Linked DNA regions of Homo sapiens. The protein of the gene in region 2 purifies or fractionates together with the protein of the main gene of each other region. This does not show direct contact. Each region holds a gene or a part of one and is shown on either strand. Other genes may lie near its edges. The genes, in order: HSDL1, PPTC7, DBT and TRMT2B.

Evidence for each region.
Region 1: the proteins of PPTC7 (region 2) and HSDL1 purify together in Homo sapiens (affinity purification with mass spectrometry; 2 studies listed by BioGRID and IntAct, with this or other methods). This does not show direct contact.
Region 3: the proteins of PPTC7 (region 2) and DBT purify together in Homo sapiens (affinity purification with mass spectrometry; 2 studies listed by BioGRID and IntAct, with this or other methods). This does not show direct contact.
Region 4: the proteins of PPTC7 (region 2) and TRMT2B purify together in Homo sapiens (affinity purification with mass spectrometry; 3 studies listed by BioGRID and IntAct, with this or other methods). This does not show direct contact.

The regions. Positions count from the first base shown.
Region 1 is NC_000016.10:84,142,164-84,149,746, reverse strand, and holds the start of HSDL1 (inactive hydroxysteroid dehydrogenase-like protein 1), read left to right. Parts: upstream 1-4,569; 5' UTR 4,570-4,667; intron 4,668-7,583. Other genes in the region: DNAAF1 (dynein axonemal assembly factor 1), read right to left, coding at 605-740, 4,183-4,306.
Region 2 is NC_000012.12:110,580,302-110,588,186, reverse strand, and holds the start of PPTC7 (protein phosphatase PTC7 homolog), read left to right. Parts: upstream 1-4,868; 5' UTR 4,869-5,155; coding exon 5,156-5,378; intron 5,379-7,885. UniProt on the Homo sapiens protein: Protein phosphatase that plays an essential role in mitochondrial metabolism and biogenesis. Positively regulates biosynthesis of the ubiquinone, coenzyme Q. Dephosphorylates the ubiquinone biosynthesis protein COQ7 which is likely to lead to its activation.
Region 3 is NC_000001.11:100,204,834-100,211,853, reverse strand, and holds part of DBT (lipoamide acyltransferase component of branched-chain alpha-keto acid dehydrogenase complex, mitochondrial isoform 1 precursor), read left to right. Parts: intron 1-729; exon of another isoform or gene 730-814; intron 815-1,082; coding exon 1,083-1,160; exon of another isoform or gene 1,161-1,161; intron 1,162-5,217; coding exon 5,218-5,409; intron 5,410-5,552; coding exon 5,553-5,624; intron 5,625-7,020. UniProt on the Homo sapiens protein: The branched-chain alpha-keto dehydrogenase complex catalyzes the overall conversion of alpha-keto acids to acyl-CoA and CO(2).
Region 4 is NC_000023.11:101,049,102-101,056,274, reverse strand, and holds the start of TRMT2B (tRNA (uracil-5-)-methyltransferase homolog B), read left to right. Parts: upstream 1-4,163; 5' UTR 4,164-4,458; exon of another isoform or gene 4,459-4,491; intron 4,492-4,538; exon of another isoform or gene 4,539-4,541; 5' UTR 4,542-5,024; intron 5,025-7,173. UniProt on the Homo sapiens protein: Mitochondrial S-adenosyl-L-methionine-dependent methyltransferase that catalyzes the formation of 5-methyl-uridine in tRNAs and 12S rRNA. Catalyzes the methylation of uridine at position 54 (m5U54) in all tRNAs.

The DNA.
Region 1 (7,583 bases), on a different chromosome or scaffold from region 2:
GGCTTATTTTCAGCATTCTTAAAAATTGCAATGTATGTTTTTTTTTTTTTTTTTTTGAGATGGAGTCTCACTCTGCCGCCCGGGCTGGAGTGCAGTGGTATGATCTCGGCTCACTGCAACCTTCGCCTCCCGGGTTCAAGCGATCCTCCTGCCTCAGCCTCCCAAGTAGCTGGGATTACAGGTGCCCGCCACTACGCCCAGCTAATTTTTTGTATTTTTAGTAGAGATGGGGTTTCACCATATTGTGCAGGCTGGTCTCGAACTCCTGACCTTGTGATTCGCCCACCTCAGCCTCCCAAAGTGCTGGGATTACAGGCATGAGCCACTGCGCCCGGCCTAAAAATTGCATTGTATGTTCTAATAAAAATACTTTAAATGGTGTCATGAGGAACTACTGCTGTTCCTCTCTGCAGTCTGGCATTAAAGTTTAATAGAATGTGCGCTCAGCTGTGCGGCAGAGGCAGTGCCATCCTCACTCCATTCTCAGACATTGGGCAGGCAATTCAATCTCTACCAGCCTCTATTTCATTATCCGTACAAGGGGGTGATTACGCCATCTACCTTACTCCATAAATGTGCACTAATTAGGAGTATGCCCACATACCTGGGGCCCCGATCTTCCCTGTCTTCTCTTGGGTGTGCGAAGTGACCACCTGACCCATTATCACCACTCTGTTTCTGCTGGCTGTGGTAGGATGTGTCAGAAGAACCCACACATATTTCCTTAGGATCATTAATTTCTGTAAAATAAAAGAGATCAGGTCTGTAGAGATCAAGATATATGCCAAAAAATACCCCCAACTTCAGCTTGGTTAATGACCATCCACTTTTAGTATAGAACACCAGTATTCTTTAGTGGCTGGGTATGGTGGCTCAGGCCTGTAATCCCAGCTCTTTGGGAGGCTGAGGCAGGTAGATTGCTCGAGCCCAGGTGTTTGAGACCAGCCTGAGCAACATGACAAAACCCCATCTCTACAAAAATTAGCCAGATGTAGTGGTGCGTGCCTGTATTCCCAGCTACTTGTGGGGCTGAGGCAGGTTGATCACTCGAGCTTGGGAAGTCAAGGCTGCAGTGAGCTGTGTTCACACCACTGTACTCCAGCCTGGCAACAAAGTGAGACCCCGTCTCACCAAAAAAAAAAAAAAAAAAGAGAGAGAGAGAGAACAGTAATCTTTAAATGTGTAACAATTTTTAAAGCATTGGCAAAGACTATGTAAATTTCACTTCTAGGTAGATCCTCTATAAAAACTCTTGTACAGGTGCACAAGAAAACATGGACAAAGAGATTTGTTTCTGCGTTTTTTTTTATAAAAGCCAAAAACTGTTAACAACGTAAATGTCCATCCATAGGGGCTGGTTACATAAAACAATGACTTGCTTTTCTACCTTTGAGAAGAATGCACTAGAACTACATCTATCCATAGGGATAATTCTCAGAAACGTATATGGAGTGAAAAAAGCAAGTTTCAAAATAAGCACAGGATACCATATATAAATTAAAAATATGCAAAGCAATACTATACACTGTTTCAGGGCATACATGTATAGAGAAGTGCTTGCAAGAATTCATATAAAATTCTGGACAAGGGAGGAAAGGAATGGGATTAGAAACGGGGTGGGGTACAGGGGAGAAAAGGAACACCAACTCTATGTGAAATGTTTTATTTCTTTTTTTTTTTGGAGACCGTCTTGGTCTATCCCCCAGGTTGGAGTGCAGTGGCGGGATCTCAGCTCACTGCAACCTCCGCCTCCCGGGTTCAAGCGATTCTCATGCCTCAGCCTCCCAAGTAGCTAGGATTACCAGCGCCTGTCACCATGCCTAGCTAATTTTTTTGTATTTTTAGTAGAGACGGGGTTTCCCCATGTTGGCCAGGCTGTCCTCAAACTCCTGACCTCAGGTGACCCACCCGCCTTGGCCTTCCAAAGTGCTGGGATTACAGGCGTGAGCCACCGTGCCCACCCTTATTTATTTTTATTTTTTTTTTGGGGGGGGCTTATTTCTTTAATTAAAAAAGACTTCAAATAAATATGATAAAATGTTACTCATTTTCAATTCTTGCTGGCAAAACACGGGTATTTGTTTTAATGTTCTTTGTTCTTTTGTCTTTTAAAAAATTTCTGAAGCCAGGTGTAGTGGAGCATGCCTGTAGTCCCAGCTACTCAGGAGGCTGAGGCAGGAAGATCTAGCCTGGGTAACATAGTGAGATTCCATCTCTTAAAAAAAAAATCATAAAAAGGAAAATCACATGAAAAGAAACAAAAATAGTGAGAATATCTATGATAACAATAACATGAGCACATTCAAATGAATAATTTTTTTAAAGGTCATTCAAAATTGGCCAATTCAACCGCACTTAACTTTAAGAGCTGTTGTCTGCTGCTTTCTGTGTTTGTGTGGTCTATTGAACAAGACTAAAGGCTGTGCGTGTGGGGACTGGTTCTTAAACTCATCAATTTTGCATAGAATGCCCAGCCACAGGAAGCAACAGATAAATGTTTGTGGAAAAAATAAAGAATAAGCGCTCAATATATAAATATTAATATGTAATTAATAACAAGAGCTACCATTTAATAATGGCCCACTATATGCTGGGACATTTAATTATAATTCTCTCCTTATACTCCTGTATAATTATTCCAGCTTACAGATGAGGAGACTAAGGCTCCGAGAGGTTAAGCTCTGGGCCAACAGCCATAAAGCTGGCCAGCTGCTGAGCCTCAACTTGAACCCAGTGTCAATGGCTCCAAGACCAGTGTCTTTCCACTGAGTAATGCCAGTTCCCTATGGCTCCTCATACAAGGTTCATCTGGACAGTTGATGCTTAAGATATATTTGTTGCCTGGAACACAAATCAGCTGGTTTATTTGTTGCCTGCGTTCAGAAACTGGAACACAAATCAAGTGGTTTTTTAATGTAATCACTAAAAGGTTTCCTTTAGGGCACCAAGTCTAGTGGGAGCAGAAGCTGAAGCCAGGCTTCCTTCTTTCCTTTTTTTTTTTTGAGACGGAGTCTTGCTCCATTGCCCAGGCTGGGGTGCAGTGGTGTGATCTTGGCTCACTGCAGCCTCAGCCTCCCCCTTGGCTCACTGCAACCTCTGCCTCCGGGGTTCAGGGAATTCTCCTGCCTTAGCCTCCCAAGTAAGTGGAATTACAGGAGCACGTCACCACGCCCTGCTAATTTTTGTGTTTTTAGCAAAGACAGGGTTTCAATATGTTGGCCAGACTGGTCTCGAACTCCTGACTTCAGGTGACCCACCTGCCTCTGCCTCCCAAATTGCTGGGATTACAGGCGTGAGCCACCGTGCCTGGCCATGAAGGTTATCTTTCAAGTCCATTCTGGCAAACTTTGGTGAGGGGATCACACACTGACCCCAGAACCAAGTCTTCATTCGGACTCTCTACCCTAGGTCAGGCACTGGACTAGACTCCAAATTCAATCAAGATGTCTTGCCCTGACACAACATGCAGTCTGGAGGGAGAGAAAGCCTTTGATCTTACATAGTGATAGCAATAAAGGGACACATTTAAAGCATCAAAGTTGGGACCAGGGAGAATAGCGTGGTGGGTTAGGGCTGGGGCTCTGGAGACCCAGACTGTCTGGGCCTGAGTCTGGTGGGTTTTGTTTGCTTGTTTGTTTGTTTGTTTGTTTGAGACGGAGTCTCCCACTGTCGTCCGGGCTGGAATGCAATGGCGAGATCTTGGCTCACTGCAACCTCCGCCTCCCGGGTTCAAGCGATTCTCCTGCCTCAGCCTCCCAAGTAGCTGAGACTACAGGCGCCCGCCACCACGCCCAGCTCATTTTTTGTATTTTTAGTAGAGACAGGGTTTCACTATGTTGGCCAGGCTGGTCTCGAACTCCTGACTGACCTGATGATCCGCCCGCCTCGGCCTCCCAAAGTGCTGGAATTACAGGCGTTGAGCCACCGCACCCGGCCAAGTCTCTTCTGTCACTGACTAGCCGAGGGTTATCTGTTTGGTGCAAGTTTTGTAACCTCTTAAGTATGTTTCCTCCTCAGTACGAAATGGCGAGAGAAGCCCCTACTGCAGAGCGTTGCTTGCTACCATTATTATTATTGTTATTATTTGGCTGTGAAGATCGGGTATGTGGTGTGGGAAGGGGGCTGGAGCGCCTAGCCGTGTCTGCCCCTCGCCCACCGCCCTCCCTGGGGGGCAGTCGGCACCTTCCTTGCAGCCCCCTCGGCCTGCGCTCCCGTGGTCACCCGCAGACTCCTCCACGCCGGGCTCCTGCGCGCAATCCAGCTCTGCTGCACCACCTGTCGCAGGCTCCGAGGGCTCAGGGTGCATGTTTACTTCGGCGACACCGAACGCCCCGCAGCTTTGGGGGGCCCAGGTTCGCGGCGGACGTCGCTACGGCCCCAGCCCAGCCAGAGAGTACCCTCTTTCCTTCTTCGCCAGCCGCTGGCGCCCTAGTCTTTACAGCCCAACGCTTCCCCGGTCGCCCAGGCAACCGCTGCGCACGCGCACTCGGGACGGACCGGCGCGCTGGGGACGCCGGGGGGTGGGGGCGGGTCTGAGACGGCTCCGCCCCCGGCGCGTACGCGGGTCACGTGAGGGCGCGGCGCGGCAGCAGCTCCGGCGGCCGAGACGGGGGCGGCGGCCGCGCGGGTCTGGCGGGACCGGTTTGGAAGACTTTGCCGGCCTGCAGGTACCGCGCCCCCCGCGCCCTGGGCGCCCTCTCGCGGTCCTTTCGCCCCAGACCCCTCCTCGGTCCCCTCAGCGCCAGCCGGCTGCTTGGCGAGACCCCTCTGAGCTCTCACCACGCCCCCCAGGCCCCGGGCCCCCTCCGCTGCATCCGGCCCCGAAGCCCCTTGGCGCCCCTGACCCCAGGAAATCTTCGTCCCTCCGTCCCGTGAGACTCCTTCCTTCAGACCAAAAAGCCCCAGCCCCGCCCCTTCACATCTCAGAGCCCCCCTTCCCCCGGCTCCATCCTCACGCCCCCCGCCGCGGCGCTGCACCCCTGTTCTCTCTCTTCCCCCGGGCCTTGCCCCCCAAACCGCGAACCCCGTTGTCGCCGGCGCATGCCCTGCCCTCCCTGCAGCCTCTCACCCGGCTCCTCCCCCGAGCGGCCCCAGCAATCGCCTCCTTTGTCGGTGCTTCTTTATTCTCATTTCTGAACGATTTGGTTTGAGTTGTTGTTGCCGTGTTTTTCTAAAATGGAAATATGCAGCGGTCGTGGGTTCAGCCAGGATTTCCGAGTTTGCTCGTGTTGACTGGGCCTTGCCGGGTGCTGGAGGGGAAGGGCTGGGAAGAAGAACCAGGCAGGTCCCCGTTCTGAACGTGCCACCCAGACGCAGCCCCAGAAACCGGATCGCTGCAGCGCCCCTCGGCGATCCCAACATGATGTGTACAGGTGACTGCGAGGCAGTCGGGGGGTCTCACAGTGGGCTCCCTGGACAGGACTCTGCGCCTTGCTATACCTCCATCTGAATTGCAGGTAGCCCCTTTCTGAGTTGTGGGGTCTTGGGTGTGCGACTTTACATCTATAAGACTCAATTTCCCCATCTATAAACGGGAGAGTCTGACTGCGCTTTATAAGATTAATGAGAGAATAAAGTGAGACAATAGGAATAAAGCACTTAGCAGAGTCTTTTGCATAAAGTGAGCTCTCAATTTTACTCTGACCGCCACAGGAGAGAGAGAGAGAGAGAGAGGGAGGGAGGGAGAGGGAGAGGGAGGGGGAGGGGGAGGGTGTTGATTGATTGATTGATTCAGACAATCTCGCTCTGTCGCCCGGGCTGTAGTGCAATGGTGCCTGCGATCTCAGCTCCTGCTACCTCTGCCCGCCATCCCGCACCCCGGGCCCAAGTGATTCTCCTGCCTCAGCCTTCCGAGTAGCTGGGATTACAGGCACGTTCTACCACACCCAGCTAATTTTTTTTTTTTTTTTTTTAGTAGAGACGGGGTTTCGCTGTGTTGGTCAGGGTAGCCTTGAACTCCTGGCCTCAAGTGATCTGCCCGCCTTGGCCTCCCAAAGTTCTGGGGTTACAGACATGAGCCACTGTACCCGGCCAAGTTTGTGGTTTTAATCACTGCTGGAATATTCTAGGGCAACAGAGTTGAACATATTGGTGCTACTTTTTTTTAAAGTAGGTTTTCAAAAATCGAAATGACTTACGCATGACATAAAATTTATCATTTTAGCCATTTTACAGTGTATAACTCAGTAGTTCTTGCTATAGTCACAATGCTATGCAACCATCACCAGTAACTAATTCCAGAACATTTAATCACCTACAAAAGAAACCCCAACCCCATTAACAGTCATACCTCTTTTCTCCCCCTGTCCCTCAGCAGCCCTAAGTTATCTTCTGTCTCTATGGATTTGCTTATGCTGGACATTTCATACAAGTGGAAACATACAACATACGGCCTTTTGTATTTGGTTTCTGTCCTTTAGCATAATGTTTTCAAAGTTTATCCATGTTGTAGTATGTATCAGTACTTCATGCTTTTTTATGGCTGAATAATACTCCTTTGTGTGGATAACACCACATTTTGCTTATTCATTCATTTGTTGATGGACATTTTGTTTGTTTCTGCCTTCTGGCAGTTGTGAGTAGGCCACTGTGAACATGCAAGCAGGAGTTTTTATGTGAGCAAAAGTTTCTAATTATCTTGGGTATCTGCCTAGGAGTGGGGTACTCTGAATATTTTAATTCTTACTGCATAAATACAGACATGATGGTGAAGAGTGTTGGATCTTGGATGAGAATCCAGGTTTCTAATTCCATGTTGCTGCTCTTTAGGCTCAGCTTCATTGTGCGTTTAGTCCTATACCAAAAATTGGCAGTGAAGGTAAAGACATCCCAAAAAGTCTTGATACACCAATGCTAACTTTGTCATAGTGCTGACGCAGAGTATGAAAAGCTTAAGTTTTTTTCTCAAGAGTGAAATTTGAGCTTTGAACACAAAGCAGTATTTGATTCTGTTTATTAAATAAAGTTGTCTACAGCAGCATGTCAGGTGCTGAGGAGGAATATTAAAGATGTGTGAGATCCGGCCGGTCACATCCCAGTGCTTTGGGAGGCCAAAGTGGGCGGATCACAAGGTCAGGAGTTCAAGACCAGCCTGGCCAATATGGTGAAACCCCCGTCTCTACTAAAAAAGAAAAAAATACAAAAATTAGCCAGGCATGGTGGCACACGCCTGTAGTCCCAGTTACTTGGGAGGCTGAGGCAGAAGAATTGCTTGAACTTGGAAGGAGGAGGTTGCAGTGAGCTAAGATCGCGCCATTGCACTCCAGCCTGGGTGACAGAGTGAGACTCTGTCTCAAAAAAAAAAAAAAAAAAAAAAAGATGTGTGAGATCCCAGCCTCACACCATCACAAAACGCCAGGAGGATTAAAGACTTAAACTGAAAAAGCAAAAATGTAAAATTTCTAGAAAATAATTCGAAAAAATTTCTTCATGACCTGAGGCTAAGGAGGGATTTCTGAAATAAAACAAACCCTAAAGCAGAAAGATTGATATATTTGTCTCTTTCAAAATTAAGACATTCAGCCAGGTGCAGTGGCTCCCACCTGTAATCCCAGCACTTTGGGAGGCCAAGGCAGGTGAATGGT
Region 2 (7,885 bases):
AGACAGGGTCTCACTTGTGCTGCCTAAGCTGAAGTGCAGTGGCACGATCACAGTTCACTGCAGTCTTGACCTCCCATGCTCAAGCAATCCTCCCACCTCAGCCTCTCAAGTAGCTGGGACTGTAGATGTGCACCAGTATACTCAGCCAAATTTTTTTTTTAGATGGAATCTCGCTTTGTCGCCAGGCTGGAGTGCCGTGGCGCAATCTTGGCTCACTGCAACCTCTGATTCCCTGGTTCAAGTGATTCTCCTGCCTCAGCCTCCCTAGTAGCTGGGATTACAGGCACGGGCCACCATGCTTAGCTAATTTTTTCTGTATTTTTTAGTAGAGACGGGTTTTCACCATGTTGGCCAGGATGGTCTCGATCTCCTGATCTCGTGATCTGCCCGCCTCAGCCTCCCAAAGTGCTGGGATTACAGGAATTTTTTGATTTTTTATTGAGAAGAGGTCTCACTATGTTGCCCAGGCTGGTCTTGAACTCCTGGACTCGAGCAATCCTCCTGCCCCGGCCTCCCAAAGTGCTGGGATTACAGGCATGAGCCACCATGCCCGGCCATATTCACCTTTTTAAAGTGTATAGTTCAGCGATTATTCATATATTTATAAACTTGTGCAACCATTGCCACTATCTACTTCCAGAATATTTTCACCACTCCAAATAGAAACCCTGTACCCATGAGCAGTCACTCCCCATTTGTCCCTTCCCCAAGTCCCTGGCAACCACTAATCTACTTTCTGTCTCTATGGATTTGCCTATTCTGGACATTTCATATAAATGGAATCATACAGTATGTGGTATTTTGTGTCTGACTCCTTAAAATACTGCTTTTGTTTGTTTTAGAAATGGGGTCTCACTACATTGTCCAGGGTGGAGTGCAGTAGCAATTCACAGGCTCCATCCTGACACTCTATAACCTTAGCCTCCCAGGTAACTGGGACTACAGGCACTTGCCAGCTTGCCCAGCTCTTAGCCTCACCATTTTTTTTTTTGAGACAGGGTCTCACTCTGTCACCTAGACTGGAGTGCAGTGGCATGATCTTGGCTCACCGCAACCTCCGCCTCCCAGGCTCAAGTGATTCTCTTGCCTCAGCCTCCCGAGTAGCTGGGATTACAGGTGCACGCCACTACCGCCCGGCTAATTTTTGTATTTTTAGTAGAGATGGGGTTTCACCATGTTGGCCAGGCTGGTCTGGAACCCCTGACCTCAAGTGATCCACCCGCCTTGGCCTCCCTAAGTGCTTGGATTACAGGCGTGAGCCACTGCACCTGGCCCAGCCCCACCATTTATTATTATTCGTTTTTCAGATCCTAAGGTTGCATTGCTCTTCTCCAATCACATTCTGCATTCATTGAATATCCTTTTCCTCCTCTTGAGCTGGTTATGCCGCATGACAGACAGAGAGACTTGTCTGTCCGTTCAGGCCTCTCACAAATGTCATGTCTTTGTGAAGTGCCCCAGGTGTTCTCTAACCCCAGAGGGTCTCATTTCCCCTTCCCAGACCCCTCCTTTATTTCAGCTTGTGGTGCTTATTATTATTTTATTTATTTACTTTGAGCCAGAGCCTTGCTCTGTTGCCCCAGCTGGAGTGCAGTGGCGTGATCTTGGCCTATTGCAACCTCTACTTCCCGGGTTCAAGTGATTCTCCTGCCTTAGCCTCCCAACTAGCTGGGATCACAGGCGTGCACCACCATTCCCAGCTAATTTTTGTATTTTTAGTAGACCCAGGGTTTCGCCATGTTGGCCAGGCTGGTCTCGAACTTCTGACCTCAAGTGATCCACCCCCCACTCGGCCTCCCAAAGTGCTGGGATTACAGGCATTAGCCACCGCACCCAGTCTGTTATTATTATTTTAATACATTTACTTAATTTTAACCTTCCTACTGCACTGTGACTGCCACAAAATCACTGATTTTTTTTATCCTTAGCCTAGAGACTTGAACATAATAAGTGCTCAACAAATATTTGCTCATTTGCATGGCATTGCCGTAATACAGTGGCTCTAAATCAGGGAGCAATTTTGCCCCCCAGGGGACATTTGGCAATATCTGGAGACAGTTTTGGTTGTCCTGGGGGCACAGAGGTGGCATGCTTCTGGCTTCTAGTGGGTAGAGGCCAGGGATGCTGCTAAGCCCCCTCCAACGCATGCACAGGACAGCCCTAACAGCAAAGAATCATCCTGCCCAAAATGTCAATAGTGTCAAGCTTGAGACACCTTGCTGTAAGCTAATTAGTGCTCATTGTGAATAGGTTAGCAAAAAGGAACCCAAAGAGATCAACCTACCAGTCTGGCAGAAAATCTCACTAGGAAATGTCATGCCTTCTTTTTGTTGTTGTTGTTTGTTTGGTTTTTTTAGGAGCGGAGGCTGACTTTAGTGCAAAGCTCTTTCCTAATGTCATAGAGGTGCCCTGGGAGCCCAGATGGTATTTTCACCACACTTGTTCACCTTTAAGAGTGGCAACTGACCTCTCAGGAATCCCTGAAGTGCTAGGAATGTAACTCTGTTAAGGAAGAAAATCCAGGCCTTTTTAAGTCCAACAAAATGTCAAACGTGAATTGTGTTCCTGGGAGAAGGAACGGGAAGGGAGGTGTTTTGTAAAGTACCCTCTCCTGGCTTCCCCCATGGTGATGAAACTTCAGAGCTGGCTCTGGAATAAATGATTCAAGAGAACCCGAGGCCCTATCTCCTGTTCCTTTAAAACTTGCAAAGGAGCTTTGAGAAGGATTCTGTTCGCCACGTGCTTCTGTGGGCAACTCATTTGCAGGAAACTCACTTGCAGGAAATTCATTTGCCGGAAACTCAAGGCACTGGTATCACTTAATCATGAAAACAGCAGCCCCATCGGAGCAGAAGTTACTGGCTTTAGAGTCACATTTTAGGTTCCTACTCATCCCATCAAACCAGTTCTTGTGACTGACATGGAAATTAGGTAATATATGCCCTGAAAAGGAAAAGTAGGAGCAGTCTGAAGGAGTTTGACGAGGCAAGAAATAGGGTTGACATGCTATTTTAAAAAGTTTGTCCTTGGGGTAGAATTACCTGCCAGACTGACTGGGATCTGGTAGTGGTATGTGTACTTGAAAGAGCTACCTTTAGCACAGCTGGCAGCAATATAAATGCCAAGTAGAGGATTCCGAGAGGCACTACCCCCTCTTCTGGGCACTCTCCAATTCTTGTGCCATTAAAAAAAAGGAAGGTGTGAATGCATTATTGTCATTACTATACCATTTATCCAGTAAATGAACATTTTCTGGGTTCTGTATATTTGACAAAATGCCACTACGTGAAGTCATTTCTTCCGTCCAATTTTGATGAAAGCTCTTAAAGACAGAAACATATATATAGACAGTACTTGGCACACTGTGAACTGCAAAAGTGTTTAATGATGACAGTAATTAGGATAACGGAATAATATGTGTTGAGTTGATAGTTGGCAGCATTTTAAATATATTAAGAAAGCATAAAAAAGGACCATTTAAAAACGAGGTGGGAATCCCCAAAGTAACAATGGTCTTGTTAAAAGTGAACTAGAAAAAGACTGCTGTTTCTGAGAAATATATGTTTCAATCAAACTAAAAATTACTCTAAATTGAATTACTTGCCCCAAAGCTCATTTTCTGTTGTTTGTGAACCCCATTCACTCAATCATTCCTGTATTCAACAAACATGACTTTCTTTTATCATTTGTGTTCTTATTCCATTACTCCTTCCTTTTTTTTTTTTTGAGATGGAGTCCAGCTCTGTCTCCCAGGCTGGAATGCAGTGGCGCTGTCTCGGCTCACTGCAACCTCTGCCTCCCAGGTTCAAGCGATTCTCCTGTCTCAGCCTCCTGAGTAGCTGGCATTACAATCGTTTGTCACCAAGCCCAGCTAATTTTTTTTTGTATTTTCAGTAGAGACCATGTTGGCCAGGCTGGTGTTGAACTCCTGACCTCAAGTGATCTGCCCACCTCGGCCTTCCAAAGTGCTGGGATTACAGGTGTGAGCCACCACGCCCAGCCCATTATTCCTTCTTTTATTCCACAGACATTTACACACTCTCCTACTGTGTGCCAGGCATTGCTTTAGATTCTAATAATTGAGCAGCAAATGATCCTTGTCCTTGGGAAACTTAGAATCTAGTGAAATATTCATTCATTCTTTCATTCATTCACATATTTACTGGGTGCTCACGTGTTCTGGGGATACAGCAACAGAAAACACAGGACCCTCAGGTAAACGAATTACATTCCAAAGGGTAGAAGCGAAAGCAAGGGCAAAGGTCTTGAGACAGCTGTGAGCATGGCTAGAGGCCAGTTAGCAAAAGGGACATGACACCATCTGTGTCCCCTCCCACTCTGATAGGGACACATAACATTTTCTCAATTTTTCCTAAAAGACTACAAAAAGTCTCTTCTTTCCAAACAGTTTGCCGCCCTAAATCCTTCCAGTATATTACTTGGGGAGGTGTCACTAGATCTGTGTACCTCTGTTTCTCATTATGTGACTCCATTCTGGTTTCTTGCAGGTTTTTGTTTAAAGGAATGGTGGCGTTATTTATTTAAAACAGGCTTTAAAAGATACGGTTAAAACAGGGTAGAAAACCCTCACGTGGCCCACCTGCAATTCCTACTAACTTAACATAGGTCCCGCGTCTGAGGAATCCCCCTAGGTCCTAAATCTTTGGCAGCCAAGTCAAAAGTGACTACGACTCCGGGACTATAATTCCCAAGAGACACTGCGTCCGCACCCTCTGCGCATGTTCAACCTTGGTGACTGCATAAGGCAGCGAGCCCAAGGGGCTGGGCTTGGGCCTGAGCGGTGAATCGGGGCGGGGCTAGGGGCAGGGCCAGGGAGGGGGCGGTGCTGCCGGCACCGCCCGGAACACGCTAGTGGAGCGGAAGATGGCGGCGGCGGCGGCGGCCGCTGCAGCCGGGACTTCAGTTGGGCTGAGGCGGAGGAGCCGCCGCTTCTGACCTCGCTCTGGCTCCGGTGCGCGCGGCTGAGCGCGTGCGAGGCCCCGCGCGTCGGGCAGGGGCGGCGGCGGCCACTGCGCGCCGCCCTGAGGAGCGCCCCAGCGGCGGCGCGACTGCGGCTGAGGAGAGAGCCGGCTCCGGGCCTCCGCGTCCTCCTGCTCCCCCGGCCCCCCGCCTCCTCGGGGGGGCGGCGGCGGCGATGTTCTCGGTCCTCTCGTACGGGCGGCTGGTGGCCCGCGCCGTGCTCGGCGGCCTCTCGCAGACCGACCCCAGGGCCGGCGGCGGCGGCGGCGGCGACTACGGACTGGTGACGGCCGGCTGCGGCTTCGGGAAGGACTTCCGTAAGGGCCTCCTCAAGAAGGGCGCGTGCTACGGGGACGACGCGTGCTTCGTGGCCCGGCACCGTTCCGCGGACGTGCTCGGTGAGTCCCCGACCCGGTTCCCTTGCCCCAGCCTCGGATCCGCCTCCCGGGGACTCCCCGCGCGGGGCTTCCCCAGTTCCTCCCGGCGGCGAAAGGAGCCAGAGCGCTCACATGGAGGGAGCGCTTACTATGCGCCAGGCGCCGTGCCAAGCGCTCCGAGGCGCGTTTTCCGCTTGAACGACCCCCATTTTAGAGAGGAGGAAACTAAGGCGCACAGCGGTCAAGTCGTGTGCTCAAGGTCACAACCCGAGAGTGTGACCGGTCTGTCCGAGTCCAGAGCCACACTCTCGGTCTCACTCGGCCGTGCCAGCCCTGGGCGACCTCGTCCCCTCCCTGGGCGACACCTGCAGGCTCCTAACCTCGTTCTGGTTCCCTCTCCGCATGCCCCGGGGATCCCTGCCTCTTCGCGTGCTCCCGACACCACAGCCCGGCCCAGGCTGCGGGATCGCCGGCCGACAGGCAGTCGTGAGCCCCCAGACAGCCCGGCCGTATTCTTTCGCCGCCTGGATGGTAACCAAATCTTCACCCTTTTCGGAGTGTGGCGGTGGGGGCTGCTGGCTTGGCGAAAAAACCCTCACAGCGTTTTCTCCCAAATTGATCTTGTCCACTTGCGGTCACTTGGGGGTTGGCAGAGTCTCCTTGATCCAAAATAGAATGGTCGAGCCTACTTGTAGATTGCAGCCGGTAAAGCTCTGAGGATTGGTCACAGCCTTTTCAGGCCACAGGTGCTCCCTGAGGCCTATTCCAGTTATACCTTTTGGGGGTGGGAGACTACGGAGAGAGCTGGCAGAAAGGGCTAAATATAGTTCACAAGCAGTCAGAAACTTTACCATAATGTACGCCTTAGGAGATTTTGTGTATGCTATGGGATATTGTGCCGTTAAAACTCTTTGAATGAATAAAGCAATGCGCTCGCTTTGAAATTGAAGGACGTGTTGTCATTGAACTTGGGTTCAAATGTCACTTTGATTTCCCTTCCCAGGTGAGACTAAGTTTTTGGTTACTTTAAATTTCATATGCTGAGGCAGAGTTTGGCATTGGAACAAATGATTCTGTAACTTTTTTATGACAGTAATTATTTTTTAATCTGATCTCAGAATAATTGCCTAGTATCTTTGGTTCTACTACATGTAGTGTTTGTGAACATGGGACTGGAAAGGTTGTTCTCAGTTTAATTTATGAATGACCCCATTACCTGGGTTGAAGAAAAAGCATTTAATGTTTAGGCAACGCTATTGATATTAACATGAGAGGGAGACTTAGAAAGGTCCTGCAGCTTGCAGATTGAAATTGTACAAATCCACCCCGAAGTCAGCTGTCAGTGGCTGTCTTCCCTGATACATTTAGAAGTGCCTCACTCAATGAGCTTGTGACCTGTGCTGCGTTTTTTTTTTTCAGACGGAGTCTACCTCTGTCACTCAGGCTGGAGTGCAGTGGCGCAATCTTGGCTCACTGCAGCCTCCGCCTCCCCGGTTCAAGCGATTCTCCTGCTTCAGCCTCCCGAGTAGCTGGGATTATAGGCGCCCATCACCATGTCCAGCTAATTTTTGTATTTTTAGTAGAGATGGGGTTTCACTGTGTTGGCCAGGCCGGTCTCGAACTCCTGACCTCGTGATCGGCCTCGTGTTCGCCTCGGCCGCCCAAGGTGCTGGGATTACAAGTGTGAGCCTGGCCCCTGTGTTGCTTCTTAAAGTTGTGTTCATAACATAGGATAGGGGATAATGAGCCTCTAAGGTTCACCTCATAAATCTGTATGCTGGGCTGCGCGTGGTGGCTCACTCCTATAATCCCAGCACTTTGGGAGGCTGAGGCGGGTGGATCATGAGGTCAAGAGTTCAAGACCAGACTGACCAATATGGTGAAACCCAGTCTTTACTAAAAATACAAAAATTAGCCGGGCGTGATGGCGCATGCCTATAGTCCCAGCTACTCAACAGGCTGAGGCAGGAGAATCTCTTGAACCAGGGAGGTGGAGGCTTCAGTGAGCCAAGATCGTGCCACTGCACTCCAGACTGGGCGACAGTGCGAGACTCCGTCTCAAAAAAAAAATAAAATAAAAAATCTGTATGCGACTTTTGTGAAAGATCCGTGACTTGATTGATGATTTGGGGAGTATTTAAATGTATCAAATTCTATATGGAAGCTTGATTTTAAAATTTTGGAAGGCTAGACCGGGCGTGGTGGCTCACGCCTGTAATCCCAGCACTTTGGGAGGCGGAGGTGGGCGGATCACCTGAGGTTAGGAGTTCGAGACCAGCCTGGCCAACATGGCAAAACCCCGTCTCTACTAAAAAATACAAAAATTAGGCAGGTGTGGTGGCACACGCCTGTAGTCCCAGCTACTAGCGAGGCTGAGGCAGGAGAATTGCTTGAACCTGGGAGATGGAGGTTGCGGTGAGCCGAGATCACACCACTGCACTCCAGCCTGGGTAACAGAGCAAGACTCCGTCTCAAAAAAAATACAATAAAATTTTGGAAGGCTACCTTCTTAATGGAGTGGGATATTT
Region 3 (7,020 bases), on a different chromosome or scaffold from region 2:
GCTACAGTGAGCTGAGATCATGCCACTGCACTGCAGCCTAGGTGACAAAGAAAGACCCTGTCTCAAAAACAAACAAGAAAAACTTCCAAGTCATAAAAATTAAGGAACTCGTAGCAGTTCTTTTAATTATATTTTTCTTCAGTTGATCTACTCTCTTAACCTGTCCTAACTAATGAAAATGAAATGTCTCTATATATTTAAACTTTTTTCTTAACTCTCTAGTTCAAGAATTTGATTTTTTTCCCATCAAGACCCCGATGCACTGAGAAGAATAACACAATGCATGTAAAGAACTTTAACAGGGACCAGACAAGGGCAGTGGGGGAGGGAATTCTTTTTAAGAATGATCTTAAGCATTTTTATTTTGCTATCTTTTAAATTCAATACAATGCATGGCCACCACATGTAAGGTATGAAACTTGATTATTAGATCCCAAAAACAGATTATCAAGAACATTTTGGGTACAGTTAGGGAAATCTGAATATGGACAGGAGAGAAATGGTATTAAGTGACAAAAGGGAGAAGGCAGCAGAGAGGGAAAATATAAATGCTATTCAGTGAGACTTGAGCTGTAAAGTAAATGTTCAGGACATCTCTGCCCTTCAGCTGGCCAAGGACACCAAGTAGCAAACTGGCATCTACTGGTCAGTGCGCTTTGAAATCCTCGTTACGTGTTCTTTCCACACAGAGAAATAGCTTACCTGCTTTTTTTGTGTTTTGATTCCTAGTATTACTTCTCATGGAAATCTTAAGATCAACATGTCAGTGAGGAAATCACCTAGAATTTAGACATTTTCTTTGGAACTTTGGCTGGTCTGTATCATTATTTTGAAAATCTCCTTGATGTTTACAAGCTACCTGACTACTTTATCTTTTATTCTTTAATGATTAGGGTGACCTAGTTCCACATGGCCTGAAGGTAACATTGGCAGTAATGTGACTAGGTACATGTAGACTTGAAATTAAACTCAGCATAAATAAGAGTTCTCTCTCTCCCTCCTTTTATACCTCTTATTGTTTCAAATTCTCTATCCTTTCTAAGTTAAAAGTACTAAAATTGCATTCTTTTTCTGTTAAACAGGCTGCTTCCTTGGGATTACTACAGTTTCCTATCCTTAACGCTTCTGTGGATGAAAACTGCCAGAATATAACATATAAGGTTGGCTATGCAGAGTAAAAATGTTCTTATTATTAATAGAAGATGGGGCAAATGTGCTTGTAGATTAGAGACTTCTATTGTACCTCAAATAGTGATCTTTTTTAGACTAGAATTAAAGGTATGGGGTAAAACATTAAACTTAAGTCTAATTCATTGTTGTTGTTTTTGTGTTAATAATACTGTTTAGAGATTCTTAAAACTATTTTTAAGCTTTTTTTTTTCCTGCTTAAAATAATGGAAATACATAGCTGTATGGCAGATTATGTTACCCACTCTACTTACCCTCTCAAAAAGAAGCAGCTCTTTCAAAATTGAATTCCTGGAATTTTAATATTATTATTCTTATTCTTCTTCTTCTTCTTCTTCTTATTATTATTATTATTATTGGCAGAGTCTCACTCTGTCACCAGTTTGGAATGCAGTGTTGTGATTGTGGCTCACTGCAGCCTCAACCTCTCAGGCCCAAGCAATCCTTCTGCCCCAGCCTCCTGTGTAGCTGGGACTATAGGCATGCGCCACTATGCCCAACTAATTTTTAAATTTTTTGTAGAGACGTGGTCTCATTATGTTGCCCAGGCTGGTCTTGAACTTCTGGTCTAAGCAATCCTCCTGCCTCAGCCTCCCAAAGTGCTGGGATTACAGGCATGAACCACTGTGCCTGGCAAATTCCTGGAATTTTAATATTAAGAATAATTTAAGTGAGAAAAATAATAAAAGTTTGAATTCAATTTGAGTAAACTCTTCTGTGAGTAGTGAAAGTTTCTTAAGACCGAAAACTCTTTTTGAGATGCCTTTCCTGAAGTTTACTTATCATTAGAAGTGCACAACCAGAGGCTGGGCACGGTGGCTCACGCCTATAATCCCAGCACTTTGGGAGGCTGAGGCGGGTGGATCATGTGAGGTCAGGAGTTTGAGACCAGCCTGGCCAACATGGTGAAACCCTGTCTCTACTAAAAATACAAAAATTAGCCAGCCGTGGTGGCCAGCGCCTATAGTCCCAACTACTCAGGAGGCTGAGGTGGGAGAATTGCTTGAACCCAGGAGGCGGAGGTTGCAGTGAGCCAAGATTGTGCCACTGCACTCCAGCGTGGGCGACAAGAGCAAAACTCCATTTCAAAAAGAGAATTAAAAAAAGAAAAAAAAGAAAAGACATGTACAACCAGAAAGTGAGCTTAGATATTCTGGGAGGTCAGCTCCCATACGGTTAATACAGTCAGCTGTATTAATTTTAATTTTAATATCTCCTGATTAAGTATATACTTATTAAAAAAATTTCAGGCAAGAAAATGATGTTGGCCGGGTGTGGTGGCTCCTGCCTGTAATCCCAGCACTTTGGGGGACAGAGGTAGGAGGATGGCTTGAGCCTAGGAATTCAAGACCAGCATGGGCAACAAAGTTAGGAGGCCCCATCTCTACAGAAAAAAAAAATTAGCCAGGCATGGTGGTGCATGCCTATAGTTTTAGCTGCTTGGGAGGCTGAGGCAGGAGAATCATATGATACCTGGGAGATGGAGGTTGCAGTGAGTTGTGATCATGCCACTGCACTCCAGCCTAGGTGACAAAGTGAAACCCTGCCTTTGTCAAAAAAAAAAAAAGAAAAGAAAAGAAAAGAAAAAAGAAAACAAAGATGTTTACCCTCAATTCCATGACCCTAAGATAGCTCACTGTTTATGTTGAGATATACATCTTTCTAGGATTTCATTTTTACATACTTTTTACAAGATATAGAATTATTTATATTTTCTTTAACTTGCTTTTTTCTTTTTCTTTTTTTTTTTTTTTTGATACAGAGTCTTGCTCTGTTGCCTATCTAAAGTATTCCCCATAGAGAATATCTATGCTGTGGTGTAATCATCGCCTCACTGCAGTGTCCACCTCCCACCGCAGCCTTCTGAGTAGCTGGGACTATAGGCACGTGCCACCATGCCCAGCTAATTTTTGTACTTTTTTTTTTTTTTTGTAGAAATGGGGTCTTGCCATGTTGCCCAGGCTGGTCTCTAACTCCTGGGCTCAAGTGATCCACCCACCTCAGCCTCCCAAAGTGCTGGGTTACAGGCATGAGCCACTGTGCCCAGCCTCTTCATTTTCATTTACTATATTGTAGACATCATTGTCAACAAGTATAGCTTTGTTATTTATTTAGCCAGTGACCTATTTATAAACATCATGATTATTTGCAGTTTCTCAAACTTATAAACAGTGTGTACTCAACATCCCTGTGTATCCCTACATACTTCTGCACTTAGTTCCTTAACACGAATTTTTATAAATGTTGGTTCATGTTGTCATATGTTCTCCAGAAAGTCTCTACAGTTTAAGTATCCGTTACCTGAAATGCTTGGGACCAGAAGCGTTTTTGGATTTAAGATTTTTTTGGATTATGGAATATTTGCATATACAAAGGAGATATCTTGAGGACAGGACTCAAGTGCAAACATGAAATTCACTTATGTTTCATTTACCCCTCATACACATAGCCTAAAGGTAATTTTATACAATATTTTTAACATTTTTGTGCATGAAACAAAGTTGGATTTGTTTTTTTTTGTTTTTGTTTTGGAGACAGAGTCTTGCTCTGTGGCCCAGGCTGGAGTGCAGTGCTGCGATCTCGGCTCACTGCAAACTCTGCCTCCTGGGTTCATGCCATTCTCCTGCTTCAGCCTCCTGAGTAGGTGGTACTGCAGGAGGCTGCCACTACGCCTGGCTAATTTCTTTTTGTATTTTTCGTACAGATGGGGTTTCACTGTGTTAGCCAGGATGGTCTCCATCTCCTGACCTCGTGATCCGCCCGCCTCGGCCTCCCAAAGTGCCGGGATTACAGGCGTGAGCCACTGTGCCCGGCCACAAAGTTTTTTTTTTTTCTTTTTTTGACACAGAGTTTTGCTCTGTCACCCATGCATAATCATAGCTTATTGTAACCTAAAACTCTTGAGGTCAAATGATCCTCCCACCTCAGCCTCCCAAGTAGCTGAGACTATAGGCATGTGCCATAATTTAAAAAAAAATTTTTGTAGCTAATTAAAAAAAATTTTTTTGTAGAGATGGAGTCTTGCTATGTTGCCCAGGCTGGTCTCAAACTCCTGGCCTCAAGCAATCCTTCTGTGTCAGTCTCCCAAAGTGTTGGGATTATAGGCATGAGCCACTATGCCCTGCCAGAACAATGGCTGCATTTTTCTCTTTTTTTTTTATTGATGGGCTCTGATATGATTAAATATTATAAAATGAGAACTGTTTCAACAACTATGCAGCATAATGTTTAAGGACAAAATATTGAATATACTTTTTATTATATATGTATTTTATCACATAGTAAGGAATGCTGAGGTGCTTAATCCATCCAATAAATTGAAAATAAAATCTTTACATTTCTATATTTGTCAGTATACAGAATTCTGAAGATGGATCTTGACTCAGGGTGATAAATCAGTTTTCAAGGAAATTGGCTACATCACATGACGTCATTTCAGCCCCCAGAAGTTTCAGATGTTGGAGCATTTCAGATTTCAGATATTTGGACTAGGGATGCTCAACCTGTACCAGTTACATTCCCACTAACGATGTTGGGAAATAGCCTATTGCCTACATTCTTATCAATAAAAAATTATCATCTTTTTTTGGACAGAGTCTCACTCTGTCTCCCAGGCTGGAGTGCAGTGGCACAATCTCGGCCCACTGCAACCTCCACCTCCCAGGTTCAAGCGATTCTCGTGCCTCAGCCTCCCGAGTAGCTGGGATCACAGGCCTGTGCCACCATGCTAATTTTTGTATTTTTAGTAAAGATGGGGTTTCACTATGTTGGCCAGGCTGGTCTTGAACTCATGACCTCAGGTAATCCAGCCACCTTGGCCTCCCAGAGTGCTGGGATTACAGGCATGAGCCACTGCGCCTAGCCCAAAAAATCTTTTAAAAATTATTTTTAAATTATTTCTTTTAAATCACTACCAATCTGGTAAAAATGAGTTTTGGTAGTGGTTTCTAGATGGCAGTGAAGGTTGATCCTTTCTTTGCTGTTAGCTTATTCATTAAAAGCCCTACTGTACAATTTTTTATTTTTTAGGCTTCTCATAACATTGGGATAGCAATGGATACTGAGCAGGGTTTGATTGTCCCTAATGTGAAAAATGTTCAGATCTGCTCTATATTTGACATCGCCACTGAACTGAACCGCCTCCAGAAATTGGGCTCTGTGAGTCAGCTCAGCACCACTGATCTTACAGGAGGAACATTTACTCTTTCCAACATTGGATCAGTGAGTAATAATGTTGAAATACATAAACCATTACTTAAGGTTTCTGATCATATGCTTAATTAAAAATAGAAAAGTCACTTGGCATTTGTTCCCTGAAAAATCTTAACTTTTAATACTCTCCTTTTTTTTTTTTTAAAAAATAGATTGGTGGTACCTTTGCCAAACCAGTGATAATGCCACCTGAAGTAGCCATTGGGGCCCTTGGATCAATTAAGGTACATGTATTAGATAACTGAAAAATGGAGTTTAAGCAAATTCAGGGACTAAACACAATGAAGAGTAACCATTTCTAAGGTTTCCCCTCCTTTTGTAGGTTTTAAGTTTCTGAGTTTATCTTAGAAAGTCTATTATTTCTTTTTTTTTTTTTTTTTTAACTTTAAGTTCTGGGATACATGTGCAGAATGTGCAGGTTTGTTACATGAGTATACACCTGCCATGGTGGTTTGCTGCACCCATCAACCCGTCATCTACATTAGGTATTTCTTCTAGTGATATTCCTCCCCTAGCCCCAGACCCCACGACAGGTCCCCAGTGTATGGTGTTCCCCACCCTCTGTCCATGTGTTCTCATTTTTCAACTCCCACTTATGAGTGAGAACATGCAGTGTTTGGTTTTCTGGTTTCCAGCTTCATCCATGACCCTGCAAAGGACATGAACTCACTCTTTTTTATGGCTGCATAGTATTCCATGGTGTATATGTGCCACATTTTCTTTATCCAGTCTAACTAACATTGATGGACATTTGGGTTGGTTCCAAGTCTTTGCTATTGTGAATAGTGCTGCAATAAACATACATGTGCATGTGTCTTTATAGTAGCATGATTTATAATCCTTTGGGTATATACTCAGTAATGGGATTGCTGGGTCAAATGGTATTTCTGGTTCTAGATCCTTGAGGAATCGCCACACTGTCTTCCACAATGGTTGAACTCATTTACACTCCCACCAACAGTGTAAAAGCGTTTCTATCTCTCTATATTCTCTCCAGCATCTGTTATTTCCTGCCTTTTTAATGATTGCCATTGTAACTGGCATGGTATCTCATTGTAGTTTTGATTTGCATTTCTCTAATGACCAGTGATCATGGGCTTTTTTTCATATGTTTGTTGGCCATATAAATGTCTTCTTTTGAAAAGTGTCTGTTCATATCCTTCGCCCACTTTATGATGGGTTGTTTGTTTTTTTCTTGTAAATTTGTTTAAGTTCCATGTAGATTCTGGATATTAGCCCTTTGTCAGATAGATAGATTGCAAAAATGTTCTCCCATTCTGTAGGTTGCCTGTTCTCTCTGATGATAGTTTCTTTTGCTGTGCAGAAGCTCTTTAGTTTCATTACATCTGATTTGTCAATTTTGGCTTTGTTGCAATTGCTTTTGGTGATTTAGTCATGAAGTCTTTGCCTATGCCTATGTCCTAAATGGTATTGCCTAGGTTTTCTTCTAGGGTTTTTATGGTTTTAGGTCTTACATTTCAGTCTTTAATCCATCTTGAGTTAATTTTTGTATAAGGTGTAAGGAAGGGGTCCAGTTTCAGTTTTCTGCATATGGCTAGCCAGTTGTCCCAACACCATTTATTAAATAGGGAATCCTTTCCGCATTGCTTGTTTTTGTCA
Region 4 (7,173 bases), on a different chromosome or scaffold from region 2:
GCTTGAACCCAGGAGGCGGAGGTTGCAGTGAGCTGAATTCACACCATTGCACTCCAGCCTGGGCAACAAGAGTGAAACTCCATCTCAAAAAAAAAAAAAAAAAAAAAAAAAAAGGAAAAGAAAAGAAAAAAAGAAGAAAAAAAAGCAATTCTCCTGTTTCAGCTCCTGAATAGCGGGGATTACAGGCATGCACCACCACGCCCAGCTACTTTTTGTATTTTTAGTAGAGACGGGGTTTCACCATGTTGGCCAGGCTGGTCTTGAACTCCTGACCTCAGGTGATACTGCCCGCCTCAGCCTCCCAAAGTGCTGGGATTACAGGCATGAGCCTCCTTACCCGGCCTTAGGTGGTTTTTGATCAAGGAGAACTTTAGAATTGTGGTGCTTGTCCAAGATGGCGATGCTCCTGCTTGGTAAATTTTAATATGTTATTTCTGAGAGCGAATGCTGTAGCCTCTCAGCTATCTTTTCCTTGCACCAAAATGAGAATGTTTGACAAATTCCTAGGGATTTCACTTTGTTGTGATTTGGTTTGCTAATAACAAAATTAAGTAAAAGGTTATCTTGGTTCCAGCTCTTATTTGAGTTAACAATATTCCTTATCATCTATGACATATCCACTTACTGACTTTCTGGTTGAAGGGTCTAACCTTTCCTATAATACGGGGTATTTCTTTCCCCTCTTACAAATGTAATGATTTCGCTTTTATAGTAGAATATGCTTTACCAGATTAAATAAATATAAAGGGGTTAATGGCTAAATAATTACATTATAGCTGCTTTAATCTCTTTTCTCTCTCTACCCCTCAGGGTTTTCCTCCTTGAATGACAGGCCTGCTTTAAATGAATTTGCCTGGATGCTCAAAATAGGTGGGGGTGAGGGAGGAAATGCCTTCTCTCTTTCAGCAGACAAGATGGAATTCAGTTTAATTAATCAAATATTAATATTTATTGAGCTCGTATGGGACACCTGATTCTGTGCTAGGCACAACACAGAAGGCCAAAACGAGAAGTGATAAAGGAGCAGAAGGGCTTGGGAAGGGGAAGAAAGGGGAAGAGGAGGTGATAAAAGGTGTAGAGCTGTCTAGCCATATAAGAGGGGATTAAAAGATGAGAAAGGGAAAATAGAGCCAAAGGTAAATTCTCTGGCCTGGTCTCACTTGATAGCCCTGCATGGGCCTAGAAGGCTGAAGCAGTGGTTTGAGTTCAAATTTTGCTTATGAGCCATGAGAGCAGTTAGGATAGTGGCAATTTGAGTCAAACATTTACCTCCTCAAGGGTTTAGGATGGAAGTGAAATCTCTCTTTAAAAAACAAGAAACATACACGTGTGTGTTTGTGTGTGTGTGTGTGTGTGTGTGTGTGTGTGTGTGTGTTGTGGGGGCCAAAGTCATTGGCCCCTGAAGGTTCACTAAAATATCACTGATATGAGGCTGATTCATAGGAGAAAAGGCATACAAATTTATTTAACATGTACACATGGGAGCCTTCATCATGGAGACCCAACCTCCCAATAATTAACAGAAGCTTATATATCATCTTGAAATTACAGAAAGAGACCAGGCGTGGCTCATGCCTGTAATCCCAGCACTTTGGGAGGCCGAGGCGGGCAGATCACGAGGTCAAGAGATCGAGACCATCCTGGCCAACATGTTGAAACCCCGTCTCTACTAAAAATACAAAAATTAGCTGGGCGTGGTGGTGCAAGCCTGTAGTCCAGCTACTAGGGAGGCTGAGGCAGGAGAATCGCTCGAACCCGGGAGGCAGAGGTTGCAGTGAGCCGAGATCGCGCCACTGCACTCCAGCCTGGGTGACAGAGCGAGACTCCATCTCAAAAAAAAAAAAAGCCGGGCGTGGTGGCTCACGGCTGTAATCCCAGGACTTTTGGAAGCCGAGGCGGGTGGATCACGAGGTTGGGAGATCAAGACCATCCTGGCTAACACGGTGAAACGCCGTCACTACTAAAAATACAAAAAATTAGCCAGGCGTGGTGGCGGGCGCCTGTAGTCCCAGCTACTTGGGAGGCTGAGGCAGGAGAATGGCATGAACCCGGGAGGCGGAGCTTGCAACAGTGAGCCGAGATCGCGCCACTGCACTCCAGCCTGGGTGACAGAGCGAGACTCCACCTCAAAAAAAAAAAGTAAGAAATTACAGAAAGAATGTGGACGAACTCAGAGTATATACAAAAACAGGTTTTAGTGGCAAGATAGGTTATGGAAGAAAGGAAGAGACTTGGTTTGTGAAGGTGGCCTTGTCATGTAGAGGAAGCCTCCTTCCGAAAGAATAGCTGGTAAATGCTTCTTTTCAAACTTTTAAAGATGTCAGACTCTCAATCTCTCCTGGATCCAGGTAAGGCATAGAAATGGGAAGCTTGGCTGTATTCAAGGAGGTTCTCTACAGATGCAAATTTCCCCCATCTCAGTCCTCTGGTCCTGAGGCAGCCATTTCAAACATATGGCAAATACATTTATTTTGGGGTAAAATATTTTTATTTTCTTCAGAATGTATGAACACACAGTATATCAACTTATTTTGAATGATAATAGCTAACTTTGTGTACTTACTGTATTCTAAGCACTTTGTGTGTATTAACTCATTTAATCGTTGTCACAACCGTATGAGGTAGGTAAAATTATTGTGGACATTTTTTTTCAGATGATGAAACTGAAGCACTGAGTAATTAAATAACTTGCTCAGTGGACACAGCTTATCAGTGGCAGATCTGCTGGGGGTGGTGGCTTATGCCTGTAATCCCAGCACTTTGGGAGGCCGAGGCAGGCGGATCACCTGAGGTCAGGAGATCGAGACCAGCCTGACCGACGTGGTGAAACTCCATCTCTACTAAAAATACAAAAATTAGCTGGGCGTGATGGTGCACTCCTGTAATCCCAGCTACTCGGGAGGCTGAGGCAGGAGAATCGCTTGAACCTGGGAGGCGGAGGTTGCGGTGAGCCGAGATCACACCATTGCACTCTAGCCTGGGCAACAAGAGCAAAACTCTGTCTCAAAAAACAGAAAAATAGAAAATAAGTGGCAGATCTGGGCTTTGAATCCTATTCTGACTGACTCAATGTTTGCTGCTATTTGAAGTATTGGGCCTTGTTTAATTTACTACTGTACTCACTAAGGCTAACACATTGCCTTGCACATAATAGGCATGTTATGCTTTGAATAAATATTAATACATGAAATGTTGACTACAAAGTGTTTTCCACTTGAGCACAATTACTATTAAGCATAAAAATTAAATATCATTAAATGTACGTTCACTATTTTTTTTTTTTGAAACGGAGTTTCACTCTTTTTGCCCAGGCTGGAATGCAATGGCATGATCTCAGCTCACTGCAACCTCCACCACCTGGGTTCGAGTGACTCTCCTGCCTCAGCCTCCTGAGCAGCTGGGATTACAGGCGTGCGCCACCACGCCTAGCTAATTTTTGTATTTTTAGTAGAGATGGGGTTTCACCATGTTGGTCAGGCTGGTCTCGAACCCCTGACCTCAGGTGATCCTTCCGCCTCGGCCTCCCAAACTGCTGGGATTACAGGCGTGAGCCACTGCACCCACCTCGGTAGGTTCACTTTGCTGTAAATTTTACTCTATTAAAGCAACAATATTTTACAGCACACAGATGTGTGTATACTTCAAGTTTTCTTACTCGTGGCTGGGCTAATGACTCCTCTAAAAATTAGAGGTATTACTGAATGTAGTCCAGGAGGTAGTGAATCAACCAAAAAGAGACATCTGTCCTCTTTTTGAGTTCTGTAGTTGAAGAAAAAGATTATTTCTGAGGGTTTAGGATTTAATAGTCTTGAGTGGGATCCAGTGAAGAAACTATAAAGTATTTTTCTGATGCAGTGTTAAAAGAGAATGAATGCTTGAGAAACCCCACGGCCCAGAATAGATCTGGCTTTTACCAAAGGATGCCATTTCACGGAACCACCCTGTTTCTCATCTCCCAATCTTCCAACCCGTTAGGGATCTGATGTCTGCAATTCTATCATGAGAAAACTATTCCTTGAGTTGGAAGACTTAAACTGCAAGCACCCCTGGGATGGCTAACGCAGTTAACACTGCAGTGTGAACGTCTTCGTGAGTCTCTTATGTAGATCCACCAATGGGACGGTGAGGAAAGAGCAGGTGGTGGGCGGGGCCCCGGGGAGGGGAGGAGAGGAGAACTTAGAGAAGGAAGGCGGCGGGTGTCAGGGCTATGAGTGCTTTTAAGGAAGGTCTCCATAGAAGGTTCCCCCAGCAAAGTAGGGAGGGGTACTCCCCGAGAGGAGTCGAGGTGCCGGAGCCTGCTGCCTCGCCGACGCTGGGAGGAGCCCCGTGTCCCGCCGCGCTTGCCAAGGGTTGGCTGCGCGTGCGGCGGGAGTAGAGGCGCCTTGCGCACCAGGAAGTGACTGTTTCCCCGCCGCAGCAAACCAGGCCATCCGCTGGCCTTTTAGTTTGCCGCCTCAGGTTTGTAAGAGGATTTATTGGTTACGAAGGAAGGTAAGGTGGATAAATAGCCCGGAAAACCTGATTTAACCCTTGCTTTACAGAAAACTCCCTACTATGCCAAACTGTCCGCGGGGCGGGGAATGGAGGAGGCAGGCGGGGCTGGAGACGGGACCCGACGGTGACTGCGCAAGGTCGTGTACGGCCCAGCGTGGGCCTGTGCCCTAACTCCTCCCACTCCCTTACTTTCTGTCCTTCCCGGGCCCTGCAGACCGGCCAAGTTTAGTGGTAGCCTTTCCTAGTGTCTCCTCTTTGTTAACCCTTCCTACAGACACAGTGGGCAGAACTTGCCTAAAGAAGAAGGGAATGGAAGGGCTAGTGGAGTCTTGTTGGGGAGACAAGGACCTGACTGCCTGTGGGCTGCATTCGGGACACGACACAGCAGTCAACCCATTTGCTTGTTTGGTTTAGCAAGGAATAGTGTCTGGAGCCGGTCCAGCTGAAGGAAGGGTGAGCAGAGAGTGCAAGCAGGACCCTTGTCGGTGGGTGAACATTTTGCTCCAAAAGGGATCCTTGGCCCTGCGCAGGTGAGACCTACCACATAGTCTCTTTGATTTGAACCTCTCTGAGCACAGGAGAGTTAGCCTGCCTTCCTATTTGGGCTACTCTGGACTCCAGGACTCTTCCTGATCAATTCCTGAGGCAGGTATAGAACAGTCGAGCACGACTGCTCACACGCTTTTTTTTTTTTTTGCTGAGGAAAAAACTCCCAAGCATTTTTATTTTTTATTTGTTTGAGACGGAGTCTAGCTTTGTCACCCAGGCTGGAGTGCAGTGGTGCGATCTCGGCTCACTGCAACCTCCGCCTCCCGGGTTCAAGTGATTCTCCTGCCTCAGCCTCTGGAGTAGCTAGGATTACAGGCGCCTGCCACCACGCCCAGCTAATTTTTGTATTTTTAGTAGAGACTGGGTTTCACTCTGTTGGTCAGGCTGCTCTCGAACTCCTGACCTTGTGATCCGGCTGCCTCGGCCTCCCAAAGTGCTGGGATTACAAGCGAGAGCCACCGAGCCTGGCCCCCAAGCATTTATTTTTTATTTTTTATTTTTATTTTTGAGACAGAGTTTCACTCTTGTTGCCCAGGCTGGAGTGCAATGGTGTGATCTCGCCTCACCGCAACCTCTGCCTCCCAGGTTCAAGCGATTCTCCTGCCTCAGCCTCCCGAGTAGCTGGGATTACAGGCGTGCGCCACCACACCCGGCTAATTTTGTACTTTTAGTATAGACAGGGTTTCTCCATGTTGGTCAGGTTGGTCTCAAACTCCTGAGCTCAGGTGACCTGTCAGCCTCGGCCTCCCAAAGTGCTGGGATTGCAGGCGTGAGCCACCGCACCTGGCCCCAAGCACTTATTTAAAACAGGACAAAATATAAAAAGAAAATAGTCTCTTCTGTGAACAAATGTCTCCCCTGACATTAAGAAAGAAACAGAACTCACCTTGACTAGTATGAGTGTGCTGCCTTGAAAAAGAAATTTCACCACAGAAGTTACTAAATATGACAGGCTCTTTACCTAGAATGATGGCTGGTTGGCACCTTGAAATAATAAGGTCCTGTTTTAAACCATACTTGATAATTTGGAAGAGACCTAGATGGACAAGGACCCTCCTGCTGGGGTATAGGGCAAATGAACTACAGTCATGGCAGAGTCACCAGTGAGAGGACCCACACACTCACAAAAAAGTCTAAATGTCGTTGGGGTGGGAATAGCTATCTTCAAATTCCCCAGCTTCCTTGTCCCTCCTCTGCAAATCCTCAAATGGGCCTGCAGTTTCCTTCCTCCTGACTTTCCTGCTGACTGGAGGGACAGGACCCCTCTCCTGGATCAGCTCTACTCCCTTCCCCTGTAGTCTGGGCTTCAAGGCCACTGGCCTTCTCAGACCCACCATGTCATTCTTTATGTCTCTTGCCTCTTCATTCATTTCCTTTCTCTGGCTTTTGCCATCCTCCATATCGAATACGTACATTCTCACAGGCCACACACTTTTTTTTTTTTTTTTGAGAAGGAGTCTCTTGCCCAGGCTGGAGTGCAGTGGTATGATCTCGGTTCACTTTAACCTCTGCCCGGGTTCAAGCAATTCTCCTGCCTCAGCCTGCTGAGTAGCTGGGATTATAGGCGTGCGCCACCACACCCAGCTAATTTTGTATATTTTTGGTAGACAGGGTTTCACCGTGTTGGCCAGGCTGGTCTCGAACTCCTAACCTCAAGTGATCCACCCTCCTTGGCCTCCCAAAGTGCTGAGATTACAGGCCTGAGCCACCCCGCCTGGCTTTTTTTTTTTTTTTTTTTTTTTTTGGAGACAGGGTCTCCCTCCCGGGCTGGAATGCAATGGCACAATCATAGCTCACTGCAGCCTTCAACTGCTGGACTTGTGATCCTTCTGTCTCAGCCTCCTAAGTAGCTAGGACTACAGGTGTGTGCCACCACACCTGGCTAATTTTTAAAACTTTTTGTAGAGACCGGATCTCGCTATGTTGCCCAGACTGGTCTCAAACTCTTGGCCTTAAGCAATCCTCCTGCCTTGGTCTCCCAAAGTGCTGGGAGTTACAGTTGTAAGCCACTGCACCCGGCTGCCACACACTTTTGAGAGTATTAACAGGTAGTCCAGCACAGGCCATAACCTCACTACACTCCAGCAGGCACTCATGTAGAGGGTCAGAAAATTTATGTGTCTATGTGTG